Homo sapiens: one gene and its partners. The protein of the gene in region 3 purifies or fractionates together with the protein of the main gene of each other region. This does not show direct contact. Each region holds a gene or a part of one and is shown on either strand. Other genes may lie near its edges.

Region 1 (3,173 bases), on a different chromosome or scaffold from region 3:
CTTACCGGGGCCACCGAGCCAACCGGCTGCTGTACAGATGTAAAAGGGACCTCGTGGACGCCCGGGCCGGCGGGACTGGACAGCAGCCCTGGGCCCAGGTTGTCCGGGGCTGTGGCCGGCCGGGAGAGTCCAGTGGAAGGTGCTGTCTCTTCTTTTTATAAAGGGGGTTGGGGTGTGGGCTAGGGTGGGGGTTGGGTTAGGGGAGACCCTGCAGTTGGGGGGCAGGACACAAGGGCGGACTCATCCCCAGCGGTGCTGGGGGGCAGGGAGGGTCCTGGGGGGCAGGGAGGGTCCTGGGGGGCAGGTGGGGGCAGGGGCGGCGAGGCGCGCGGCCCGGGCCAGCATCTGTTTGAAGGCGCTGTTTCCCGTGCGCTGCGTCCACCGTCTGTCTGGCCCCAGCCAGCTTGGGCGGAGGGGAGGGGGGCGAGGGGAGCACCCGCGTGTGCACAGCCACAGGGTGGGGTGCAGGTGGCTGGGCCCAGGCAGCATTCAGGCCCCTGGCCCCGCAGTGGCGGGCACTCATGTGAAGCCCACCCCTCTGTGGTCAGTAAATTCTCCAGAAAGCGCCAGCCTCCGCCTCTTCTGTCACCTTTGACCCCAGGGGGACGCTAGGAGGCCCCCAAAACCCCACCCCGTGCCAGCCAAGAGACAGACAGGGCAATGAGGCACCTGTGGGACTTTATTAGGTAAACAGACCCCAGCTCCAGCCACAGGCTTGGACCGGCCAGCTGACAGTGCGGCCTCAGACACCCCCGCCAGGTTCCCTCCTCCCTCCTCTCTCAGGGTCACCAGTGTGTGAAAGATCGGGGCATGCCGGCCACAGGGGGAAGCAGGGTTCAGGCTGCCCCACCTGGGTCTGGCCCTGGCAGGCGCCCCCTCACCTGGCTCTGCTGTGGGAGCCGAGAACAAAGACATCACCTGCCTGGCTCCTGCTGCCCCGGGGGCTCAGCCAGCACCCACCCTCACAGTGGCCTGGGCAGGGGCTGGGGTGCAAAGCCTCACCCTCCCCCTGTGAGCCAGACGGAAAATGCATCTCCCAAGAGTGTCTCGAGGGGCAGGAAGGAGGCCTGCCCCTCCCTAGCCAGTGCCTACAACAGGGGGTGCCCTGGGGGGCAGAACGGCCGACCCGCACCACAAGACATCCTGGGGGACAGAGGCCCTGGGCACAGCCCAGTCCCCACCCAGGAGCATATCCTAAATGTGCAGGGGCCGGCAAGGCAGGGGTGGGAGGGGTCCGCGGCCAGGCTCCGTGAGCTGTGGATCTCCCTGTGGACTCAGGATGGGGAGGGCTCGTCCCCACGCCCAGGCCCTTCCGCCTTCAGCCAGCACATCTTCTGCTGGTGCTGCTGGACAGCATCTTGCACGCGGGTGTCCATCATGGCCTCGGTCAGGACCCCGTCCTCGGAGGCATACGCCGTGGCCTAGTGGGGAGAGAGGCAGCTGAGGGAGGCCGCCATGGGAACCCCCCACCCCAAATGCACGCCAGGGCCCCGAGGTGGGGAGGGACCAAACCAGGGGCTCCAGGATGGCCTGAGCGTGAAACACAGGCTTCCCGCACCTCGGCAGAGCCCAGCACGTGTGTGGACACCGGGAGCAGCCCCTGCAGTGCCCACAGCCCTGCCTGCGTCCTCAGCACTGCTGTTGCTCAATGACTTTCTAATAATAGAAAGCCCAAGGCGGAGCCTCACTGACCGCCGACCCAGGGCAGCTTCCGAGAGGCAGGTGGGAACTGCAGACCCTCTGCGAGTCTCAGCCGTGGCCAGGCAGTGCCCCCGGGTCATAGTGCACCTCAGACCCTCAGACCCTGACCCTCACAGGCCTCCAGGGCAGAGGCAGCCACTGCCCACCTTGAGGCACATGAGTGGTGGCACCAAGGCCACCTCTGCCCCCACCTCCCTGTCCTCCTGAGCACAGGGCTTGGCATCTGGCACGTGAAGGCTGGAGCTGCTGGGGCTGTGGCCCTTGGTGTGGCTTCAGGCAGCCTCAGGTCCAGCCCTTCTGCAATGAACGGGTCACTCTCCATCCCAATGCCAGCGAAGGGCGTGGAGTCCCCAAGGGGAGGCACCCGTGGGTCAGGGTCAGGGTCAGGGTGTGGGGACCCCCACTGGGCACCGTGCTCAGGAGCGCACCAGGACACCTGGAGGAAGCACAGGGCAGGGGACCCTTCCTGGACAGCTGAGTGGGTCCCTCGCCCCGTCCCAGCTGTACCTCCCAGAGGCAGGATTCATCTCACGGGGTGCAGGGGCAGCAGCACACCATCCTCCCACAACACCGTCGCCACGACGGAACCTGCCATGGGGATGACCACGTGGTGCCCGTCCCCTCTGCAAGCGCCCACCCCTCACCAAGAGCCACTGTGTGGGGAGACACTGACCGGAGCCGGACCACCACTGTGGGTCGGGGGCCCGGGAGCGCAGGAGACACTGACCGGAGCCGCACCGCCACTGTGGGTCAGGGGCCCCGGAGTGCAGGAGACACTGACCAGAGCCGCACCGCCACTGTGGGTCAGGGGCCTGGGAGCGCAGGAGACACTGACCAGAGCCGCACCACCACTGTGGGTCCGGGGCCCAGGACTGCTCAACATCATTTTTGGTCTTGAGCGCACCCAAGAGAGGGCAAACAGGTGCAGGGACCCTCAGGGTCCACCCGAGTGGCTGCACCCCACCCAGGGCCCAGCAGAGGAAAGGGGCTATGCAGATGCTCACGGGGCCACCCCTCCAGGAAGCACGGGACCTGGCAGGAGCCCACCAGAAGTGACAGCTAAATGTCACGTGGCGTCCTGGGTGGGATTCTGGGGCAAAACCCAGTCACAGGTGGGTCCAACAGTGACACATGATGTTCACCACGTGGCAAGGTCCCAGGCCCAGGAAGTCTCTGTGCTACTCTTGCAACTTTTCTGGGAACCTAAAATCTTCAAACTATAAAAGTTGAAAGACAAGACCTGGACCTGATGTCTTCACATGTGAATTCACAAAACATTAAGAAGAATCAGTATCACTCCTCAAACTCTTGGACAAATTGAAGAACATTTCCTCACTCATCCTAAGAGGCCAGCATTACCCTCATATCAAAGCCAGACAAAGACACCACAAGAAAAATGACATGCCAATATCCCTGATAAGCATCGTTGGAAAAGTCCTCAACAAAATGCCAGCAAAACCAATTCAGGAGTA
Region 2 (2,539 bases), on a different chromosome or scaffold from region 3:
CAGCTCACTGCAACCTCCGCCTCCAAGGCTCAAGTGATTCTCTTGTCTCAGCCTCCCGAGTAACTGGGATTACAGGCGCGCACCACCATACCAGGCCAATTTTTTTGTATTTTTAGTAGAAACAGGGTTTCACCATGTTAGCCAGGCTGGTCTCAAACTCCTGACCTCAAGGTGATCTGCCCACCTCGGCCTCCCAAAGTGCTGGGATTACAGGTGTGAGCCACTGCGCTTGGCTGTAACTGGGTAATTTATTCATCTATTCATTAGCAAATCTCTCCTGTGTTTAGCACTAAGAACACAAAGATAGATTTTGCAGTATGGTTTCTGCCCCCAAGGAAATCAAAGGGGTAGATAATATGTAAGCTAATACAAGGTCAGAAATGTAATGTGAGGCATCTATAAGTACTATGGTTGTGAAGGAAGGAGTAATGAATGTGTTCAGTCAAGGAAAACATTAGTAAAGAAGCTATATATATATAACAAAAACAAGCAATATATGAGCAATATTTTGAGAAATGAGTCAAAGTTATTTGGTGGAAAGATATTTTCGGTCGCCACAGGTACAGATAAAAACTGGAAAAAGGATGATGAGTTCGGGGAACTATAGCTTAATTGTCCAAAGTATGGTGTGTGTGTGTGTGTGTGTGTGTGTGTGTGTGTATTGGTGATGAGGCTGTCAGGAGTTTATACAACTTTTTGCAACAATGTCACTATTGGGCACTCAAAATGTGGCTGGTGACACTAAGCAACCATATTTTAAATTTTCCCTTTTTTTTTTTTTTTTTTAGAGACAGGGTTTCACTCTGTCACCCAGGCTAGAGTGCAGTGGCATAATCATGGCTCACCACAGCCTCATACTCCTGGGCTCAAGTGGTCCTCCTGCCTTAACCTCTCGAGGAGCTGGGATTACAGGTGCATGCCACCATACCTGGCTAACTTGAGCAAATTTTCTTTTTTTTTTTTTTTTTTTTTTGAGATGGAGTCTCTGTTGCCCAGGCTGGAGTGCAGTAGCGCAGTAGCGCGATCTTGGCTCACTGCAACCTCTGCCGCTCTGGTTCAAGTGATTCTCCTGCCTCAGCCTTCTGAGTGGCTGGGATTACAGGCACCCATCACCACGCCTGGCTAATTTTTGTATTTTTAGTAGAGATGGGGTTTCACCATCTTGGCCAGGCTGGTCTTGAACTCCTGACCTTGTGATCCATCTGCCTTGGCCTCCCAAAGTGCTGGGATTATAGGCGTGAGCCACCACACCTGGCCACTGAGCAAATTTTAATTGTCACTAATATATTTAAACTTAGCCACATGTGGGCTAATGGCTACCAAATTGGACAGTGTAGTCTAGAGAAAAAAATAGCTGTGTGGCTATTCTAGGATCAGTCTATATAGAGCAATTTTGCTTTATAGCCAGAATTCTCAAAGAGAATGAGGTGAGGGAAAGCTAGCTCAAGATATTGTATAACAGTTCTGTACAACAAAGGCTTTCTTAACAGAGCTATGGGACCATCCCAGTGTATACTAACCATAACCATGCAATCAAGGCATGTTGCCTTACCTGGAGTAACGTATGACCTGCATGCTTCTGATACAGAGCGTCTGCCCTGTCCAAGGAGGTGATATGCACAGGGAGGATGTTGGAAGCCACGACTGTAAACCAAGCTGACTGATTTCCCTTAAGAAAGGAAGAAGTTATCTGACCTGGTGAAAAACTTGGAAAACCTGCATATTCAAGGTACAATCAACTAAAAAAAAAACAAACCAAAAAACAAAAACCCAATCAGACTCCCTTTATAAGTACTGGTATGGCAGTAGCTGTAAATCAAATTATTACTAAGAACAGGGGCACAATACTGAAGCAGTGCATTTCAGCAATTCATGTGAAACTATGACTTCTTTGACAGACCCAATACTATTTTTGAAAAAAGTCTATTATTAAAAATTAAAAGGAAATACTATCTGCTTTAATTGTCTCTGTGTAAAGTTAGGTTTAAAATATTAACATTTTATGTGTTCTGATGAAATATATAAGGGTGCAAGCCTGGTGTGGTGGCTCATGCCTATAATCCCAGCATTTTGGAAGGCCGAGGTGGGTGAATCCCTTGAGCTCAAGTTTGAGACCAGCCTGGGAAACATGGCAAAACCCTGTCTCTATAAAAAATACAAAAATTAGCTGGGTGTGGTGATGTGTGCCTGTAGTCCCGACTACTTGCGGGGCTGGGGTGGGATGATCATTGGAGCCCAGGAGGTTGAGGCCACAGTGAGCCGTGACTGTACCACTGCACTCCAGTCTGGGCAACAGAGAGAGATGCTGTTTCAAAAAAAAAAAACAAAAAAACAAAAAAACAAAAAACCAACCCCAAAAGCAAAAAACCAACAACCTCCCAAAACGAAATATATAAGGGTTCTAAGTGTGTAAGGCAAAATTTCTAACAAAGTATGAGCAAACACAAAACCCAAGAAATGTGCTATAGTAATGGCACACAGTTGTATTGTGTTGTTGGACATATCCATATCCATGTTTCATTTTCCTTTTTCTCTTCAC
Region 3 (4,295 bases):
GCAGAGCACACAGCATTGGTTTATTCAAAGAGTTTTTCTCTGCATTACACTATTATTTTCTTACTACACTTTATGTACAGTTAGACCCTTGAACAGTGTAGGGGTATGCATAATTGAAAATCTGTGTGTAAACTTTGGACTCCCCAGAAACTTTACCAATAGCCTACTGTTGACCTGGAAGCCTTACCAATGTTATTTTGTATGTTATGTGTATTATATACTGTATTACAATAAAGTAAGCTAGAGAAAAAGCAAGTTTTTTTTTCCAAAATGTTGTGACTCTTCAAAAATTTTTCCAATATATTTATTGAATAAAATTCGCTTGTAAGTGGACCTACACAGTTTCAACCTGTATTGCTCCAGGGTCACTGTATTTTGGTTCCTGTCTCTTCTTTCCCCTCCCATTTACCTACTGTTTTAAAGCCTGTTAAGTCTTTATTCATTAGTTACTCCACATTTCTTTCTTTCTTTCTTTTTTTTTTTTTTTTTGAGACAGAGTCTCAGCTCACTACAACCTCCTTCTGGCTCAAGTAATTTTTGAGCCTCAGCCACCCGAGTAGTTGGGACTACAGGCATACACCACCACGCCTGGCTAATTTTTATATTTTCAGTAGAGATGGGGTTTCGCCATGTTGGCCAGGCTGGTCTCAAACTCCTGGCCTCAAGTGATCTGCCCGCCTTGGCATCCCAAAGTGCTGGGATTACAGGAAAGAACCACTGTGCCCAGCCTACTCCATGTTTCTTAAAAATGGCCTATATAATATGATTCATAAGCAAAGGAGTACAGCATTTAAATTTTAATAAGTGTTTTCTATCTTTGACCTTTACAAAGCCTATAAAGGTTACTTTTCTAGTCACTTCAAGTTATAACTTCAGGTTCAGGCCTGTAGAGGTAAGTAATCACATTTGAACATGTACTTAGGCATCTTTATGTTTCTTAGTGTTCTAGACTTGTCCTTATTGAATTTTATTCTAATTTAAAAAGTAGTTTCTGTGTTCGATAATTTTTATTCCTTAATTACCTAGAGGACTGAAACTCCTGATTCAATAAATTGTTGGGCAAAAGAGGTTCTCTACAATGAAGAATATTTGATCAAACAGTTCCTGTGGAATCAATTTCATAGTTGGGCTTTGCTTATGTCATTAGGCAAGGCTGGCACTTCACATATTTTTATGTAGATGGTTCTCCCAAGGTCTGCTAGAACTTCAGCCACTTTCCATGACACCCATTTGACTGTTGAAAAGTTAGGGCTCACAGATTTTCAGATTGCTGTGAGAATGTCAATGCAGAATTCACAGGGACAGCCTTTCTATTTGAAAATTTAAATTGCAAGGAAATTTTTTAAAGGAAGTAAGATTTGGAATTAAGATTCAGCAAAGAATGGGAAAGACTTTTACATGTACATTTTCACAGGTTTTGACAGTTCTGTGTCTTGGCTCTACCTTCCCTGAGTCCTGCCTGCTCTTGAGTGTTGTATAACTCTTTGTAACGTGAGGCGGGCAGGGTGTAGGTAGATGCTGCATGCTGTTGAATGTTGTGGATTCTATGTGTGCTTTATTTTCTGGGGAACTAGGGTGTGGTAGTGCTAGCTGGGTATATTGGAGGCCACTGGCTTAAAACTGTCTTTCCCATAGAGTCTAATTTCTAAGATAATTTTGTTGACAAGTTTCTCTTCTGGGATGAAAATATGTTTAATTAGGTTAAACGTTGGTCATTGACTAGTGGTGGTGGTTATGATACTTCCATGAATTCTTAGCTTCAGTAACCTTCCTGAGTGGGGATTTTATTTGGGGGACAAGGAGAGATTCCTTTCTTCCTTTCATTCTTCCCACCTTTTTGCTCTCATCTTTTACTACAGCAACTTTTCCCATTAGCATCTCTAGAACTGTGGTTTTCAAAATATGGTTTGAGGACTCTTGGGCTTTACGGGGGACCCTTTTAGAAGATCATTGTGAAAACAGTAGTGAGTAGAACAGCTGGTACGTTAGCATGAATCTAGTCAGCAGCATTAACTTTTCCTAGCAGTACGTGTATTCTTCATTGCTATGCAGTTGCAGTTTTCAAAACTGGCTTCACTGCAGAATGTCCTTCAGAATGATGAGTGGTACCAGAGTAGTATTTAGTCTTGGTAGGGGCTTTAAGAAGTTGTTGAGTTCAACCTCCCACCCATGCAGATATTAATCCAACAGCCATCCTGTATCTATTTATGTACTTCAAGTGATGGGAAGGTCACTACTTCACAAGGCAGCCCACTGCATTTTCATACAGCTGTATATTTTTGGAAATATGTTCTTGTTTACAAAATACAGCTTGATTTCTCTAATTTTTACCCTTTGATTCTAGTCCACTCTTGGAATCCAATCAAAATAAAACAAATCTACCTTTTGCATAATAGCCCTGCAAATATTTGAAGTTAGCTCTTGGGTTTTCCCTAAGTCTTTTGTAGGCTAAACATTAGTTTTGGTAATTAATATAAAAAATTAGCTTTAATTTCTTCTAGGATTAATTACCTTTTTTATAAGTATTATACTATTTCGTTAAATTTTTGGATAGTACTTTATCTTACCTAATCAGCAAATAATTATAATGTAATTTTAACATTTATATTTATATGTGTATTGGAATTTGATATTTGAAATGTATAAAATATTTAATTAATTTCACTTCTAGATGAATTGTAGGTATTTTTGAAATACAGTATTGGTGTGAACAGCATTTTGGTACTGCGTGAAGTAAATGGGAAAACATTAGTATTGTAATTTTGCCTCAGTGTTACAGTTACCACCTTGATAGTGAGCTTTGTTGTATATGAAAAGTGGCTTCAAGTTATGTTAGAGATAGAAGGAAACTTAGAGTTCCTTGAGGAAAGATAGGAGTAAGTAAGCAAGAGACCCTCTTAAAGGAGGTACAATTAGCACAGCTATTTCTAGCACCTGTTCGATGAGTGTGGCCCATTTTAGACGTTGGGAATACAGTCATGTACAAGATAGACAAAGGTCCTTGCTCCTCTGTAGCTTACATTCTGGTTAGTGAAAGAATATTTTTAGATTGCTGTAGTGCTGTTAGAAGTAAAAAAAGAATGACATCAGGAGAACTGGGGGATGGAGGTGCATTTTGGTGATGAAGATATCAGAATTGGGGGGCATAAAAAGACTTTCATCAAACTTTGTTGTGCCTCCAGCAGATGTTGAGAATTGCAGTATGAATGTTGTTTATTCATGTGAAGCTTGTAGCAACAGGAAAATCGAGAACTACTAATTTAGCAGATGAGGAAACTGAGGTACAAGTTTAAAATTGATAAATTTTAATAACATATTCAGGTTTGTATAACTCATTAGTGAATGAGCTAGGACTAGAATCATAGTCCTAGTTTTTCTAGTTTCCATTCCCATTCATTCATTCCTTTCTTTCTGTATTTTTTTTTCAAATGAATGTTTTCAGCCCTCAGTCTGTGCCTTGCCAAAGTGTGTTTCATTGATGCATTTGGTAGGTAGAAGGAAAGAGTTGAAGGAGTTGCTTTCAGATGGGGTGAGAGAAGCCTCTCAGAAGCCTGCACAACTTCTCTTAGAATAGTTGGAATTGAGTGGTTCAGAGACTTTATAAATGAGAATTATGGCAGCAAGATCATTTGTTTCCTGTAAACTATATGCTTTTGTAAGTTGAACATTGTGCTGGATTGAGCAGAACTTTTTCCCCTCTAAGCGTAAGAATTTTATTTTAATAGATCTATAGGTTTCACCAAATGAGGAACATTGAAGTTGGCAACCTGGGTTGATAAAGACATTATTAGGAGCTTGGCAGATGGAATAGTGGATTAGTGGAATCAGTTCTGAGCCCTGCAGTGAGTTGAACAGCTCAACTGATGGTATTCGTTAGATGGTACCCGATGTGTCTACCTGATGACACATCCAGTGAGGAATACACCCTCTATACGTCAGTCAGTGGCCCAGGCTCATGGTTTTATTTGTGGTGCATTTTAGGGTACATGGATTAAGGACCTGCCAGCTTCCCTCAGCCCATCACAATATAGAACCAGGGGTTGGCCAGATAGTAAATAGTTTAGGCTCTGGGGCCATGTGGTCTCTTGTAATTACAGATCTACCTTTAGCACAGAAGTAGCCATAGACACTATGCAGATGTGTGAGTTGGCTGTGTTCCAGTTCAACTTTATTTGCAAATACAGGTAGCAAGCCAGATTTGGCCCAAGAGCCCTGGTTTGCCAACCCTGCTTTATGGTGAGGTAAGGTCTATGGGGCGTTATTTTTGCTCCTCCTTCCACCTTTCGTTTTATACT
Region 4 (3,661 bases), on a different chromosome or scaffold from region 3:
TTACTTTCTTTATATCCTGCTAGTGAAAGTTCTGTCACTACAAATGCAGGGAACCAGAGACAAGCATGAGAAGAGAAAAATCTGCGTTTCTTACGATGAGTGGCTGTGTGAAAGGTTTCTGCTGGGTTTGGCTAAGGCATCTAAAACTCCGTGTCTGCTCCCAATTAGTCTACCTAGAACTTACAGTTCAGTTTTCTGGGGGGATAGGAAGAGGGGATTACATTTAGCTACCTCTTCCTTCTTGGAATAGTTAAAAATACGTTCTCATATATAAAGCAGATCGAATCAGTAACTGTCTAAATGACAACACAAATTCGGTGTTAGCTATGACTAACATCTGACTGACTCCATCTCAGCAAAAAATAAAGGACAACAAAATCTCAGTTGTTACCCAACTAAGTGTTTAAAGTATACTAAGAAGTTAGTGCTCGTTGATAGGATTACCAAGCAAATGAATTTAAGGCATAACTGGAGTAACAGCAAATGAAGTATATACTTTTTCCCTCTGGTGCAATAAGGCCTCTGCCAAGAGAGATTACTTTAAGAGTTTTCCTGCCCCAAATTAACCAAAGGTCCCGTGTATTGAAGGAGGAATAAGCTAAAGGCTGAGGCTTTTAAACAGGTAACGACTGACTTTGAAACACTCAAGACTTTAGAGTTTGAGTCAAAATCATCATATATACTTATTAGATGCTGGAATCAATGAGGCCAAATTTGCCAGGGCTGCAACATGGATAAAATGTCAAGTACAGATGAAACATTATTTTGTTTATACATGTCTAAATTTTAACAGAACCCTTTAAAAATCAGGAACAAAATGCTATGTTCACACAAAAATCCTTGTGCTTAATTTGCAGGAAGATATCAGAACAGTTGAAAACAAATTGTTTCAGTCTTTAACTTCACTTGATGAAGCTGCTCAGCAACTGTGCTGTTAGTGGTGAAAACTGCAGAAACACAATTCCCTTCTTGGATTTCAGGGAAAAGCCATTCACTTGTCAGTCTCTGCAGAGACAGGGAGAGAATTCTCTGCCCCCAACTCCTCTGACAGTTCCCTTCCACTTAATGGGGTCACTGCCCAAGTGAACTCTCAGGAGGGGACATTTCCATATAAGGCCATTTAAGTGTAAATTGACACAGCAATCTATGTCAAACAAGCCACTGAGTTTCTTTTGGGTGGTGGGATAGGGAAAAGGGCTTTTGTGTCAATTAATTAAAACTTACAGAACAGTCAAAAAAATTGATTTCTCAAAGTTCAATTAAAAAAAAAAACTAGCTCATCTCTTATTTTCAAGGAGATGAATTATGGAAAATTCCTTCAAATTTATGCCACAGGCCTAGTTTTGGACCTTAGGAAGGAATCTCCTCCCATTTTCTCTTCACATTTTAGTTTCTTCAAGTTGCTATTATAAATTGTTTGAATAGCAAAATCAGCCATGACCCGAATCATGGAGATATGTGGATTTCCTTGCATTGAAATACATCTATACAATTGAAAGTTATGCATACAGCACAAAACTATAAACAAAAAGGTGAAGCAAACTTTCTTTATTTTCAGGTAAAAACATTAACCTGATGGATTATTGCAGATTTGAGAAATCAGCACATAAAATGACTGGACAGCATTGCTTACAGGTGCTTTTATCTGCGTCGAGACAAAGGCTGAACTGTTTTGTCCCAAGTCAGCACTGGGAGAAGGGGAAGAGGAGCGTGGAATAAAGAAGACTATGAACAAAAACGTAAAACAACAAAGGGAAAAAAATTTTTTTACTCCAACAGGGAAGGAAAACTGCTTATTTTGTTTAAAAAATTTACATTAATTTAAAATCCTCTGGCCACAGAATAATAAATACCGGCCAGCCCAAGCTGTAGACTTCTTAACCTTCATAAAAGAAACAAATGAGCTTTCCTTGTCTCATTCCAGAGGCTGTTGCTGCTGGAATTGCCATGTAAACAGTCCTTAGTGTGTCACCTGGGAAAAAGCCAGTAATACCCTAAACTATATTAAAACTAAACTATAAGAAAAGTCTACCTAGTTACAAAAGCTGAATTATATTCAATAAATTTCAATCCAATGAATTTTAAATTAGATCTTAACTGGAGAGAACATGGGACAACAGAAGCCCATGGGTAACGAAAATTTGAGAACTGTGAGTTGTATACAAAAAAAAAACTGTGAGCTGCACAGATAATAATGAATCAGGGAGAGAAAATCAGAGGAAAGTGAAAAGCACATAGAGCTAGTCTACTAAACTATATTTGTCAAATACATGTGAGCTTAAATTTCTGTACTTATGTACAAGAGTTGTCTTTGGAGGAAAGAAAACTGCAGACTTAGCTAGATGGATACACACAGCCCAGAATTAAACTGCACAGCCACATTTATTGTTCCAGCCTGGAAAAACATCCCTTTTTTAAATTTCACACAGCAAAGCATGTTAAAAACTTCACTCATCAAATAAATGATAATTTAAACAAGAACTTGCTAAAGAAACCTCATCACAACAACGTTTTAGGGCCTGATCACTTTAAGTCCATGGGGCCATTAATGAATATCAACCAAATGTCTCTTTATAATCTGCAAGCCGTTTTTCCTACAACAAGAAGGCGTAACATGTTTCCTTGACTCAGGTGATAACATTAGAAAAGAAATCATGATTTGTTTCTTTTGCTGTAACAGGCAGACACTGCATTTCTTGCTATGATCAGGAAAGATGGAACGACTGCTGCCCTTCTCTTGCTGCTATCAACAGTTTTTCACGCATTATCTCAATGCTTGAATAGTCCGGCAACTTAAGATAGTTCACACAAGTCATTACAGAGGGCAAGAAGTCATCTGGGTTTTCTGTTGATTCAAACGTCTTTCGGACAATTGTCAAAGGTGGATTCAAACTCCGGAATCCTGATTAAGAGAAAAAGAAAGACAAGGAACTTAAGTTTTTAAAAAACATCAGCTATCAGAAAACATTCCACTGCTTTGCCGTACAATATTACACACAAGATATTCTTTCTTGCTTGGCAATTGCACATTCAATATACATTAAGTGCAAGGAACCTGCTTTAATTTATCATTTAAAAACTCGCTGTATAACATGGAGGCAACAGTTCTTTATGTCTTCTGATTTTTAAAATGGAATACCCACAGTGGTTCACGCCCGTAATCCCAGCACTCTGGGAGGCCGAGGTGAGCCAGTCGCTTGAGAGTTTCAGACCAGCCTGGGAAACATGGAGAAACCCTATCTCTACAAAAATACAAAAATTAGCCAGACATGGTGCTGTGTTGTGCCTGTAGTCCCAGCTACACAGGAGGCTGAAGCAGGAGGATCTCGCCTGAGCCCAGGAGGCAGAGGTTGCAGTGAGCCAAGATCACGCCACTGCACTTCAGCCTGGGTGACAAGAGTGAGATCCTGTCTCAAAAAACAAAACAAAAACAACAGAATACCAATTTAACTTACATTAGGATTCAATCTGAAAAACCAGATTTTAGAATCCATTCTCATCTAAGTCAACTAAGAGTTTAGAATGTACAAATGGCCTGGAATTTTATCTAACCAGCATTACATGTGCATTAGTAATCCTACTTCAATATGTTTAAGACAATCCCCATGGATTTCCCTGCTAGTGGTCTCAATGTACTATAATGATACTGGAATAACTAAGA

The links. The genes of interacting proteins can lie anywhere in the genome.
Region 1: the proteins of MRPS6 (region 3) and ATAD3A purify together in Homo sapiens (tandem affinity purification; one large-scale study listed by IntAct). This does not show direct contact.
Region 2: the proteins of MRPS6 (region 3) and NOA1 purify together in Homo sapiens (co-immunoprecipitation; 2 studies listed by BioGRID and IntAct, with this or other methods). This does not show direct contact.
Region 4: the proteins of MRPS6 (region 3) and TRIP12 purify together in Homo sapiens (affinity purification with mass spectrometry; one large-scale study listed by BioGRID and IntAct). This does not show direct contact.

What each region holds. Positions count from the first base shown.
Region 1 is NC_000001.11:1,532,174-1,535,346, reverse strand, and holds the end of ATAD3A (ATPase family AAA domain-containing protein 3A), read right to left. Parts: intron 1,422-3,173; coding exon 1,275-1,421; 3' UTR 662-1,274; downstream 1-661. UniProt on the Homo sapiens protein: Essential for mitochondrial network organization, mitochondrial metabolism and cell growth at organism and cellular level. May play an important role in mitochondrial protein synthesis. May also participate in mitochondrial DNA replication.
Region 2 is NC_000004.12:56,965,068-56,967,606, forward strand, and holds part of NOA1 (nitric oxide-associated protein 1), read right to left. Parts: intron 1,670-2,539; coding exon 1,553-1,669; intron 1-1,552. UniProt on the Homo sapiens protein: Involved in regulation of mitochondrial protein translation and respiration. Plays a role in mitochondria-mediated cell death. May act as a scaffolding protein or stabilizer of respiratory chain supercomplexes. Binds GTP.
Region 3 is NC_000021.9:34,118,086-34,122,380, forward strand, and holds part of MRPS6 (small ribosomal subunit protein bS6m), read left to right. Parts: intron 1-4,295.
Region 4 is NC_000002.12:229,764,849-229,768,509, forward strand, and holds part of TRIP12 (E3 ubiquitin-protein ligase TRIP12), read right to left. Parts: intron 2,903-3,661; coding exon 2,706-2,902; 3' UTR 1-2,705. UniProt on the Homo sapiens protein: E3 ubiquitin-protein ligase involved in ubiquitin fusion degradation (UFD) pathway and regulation of DNA repair.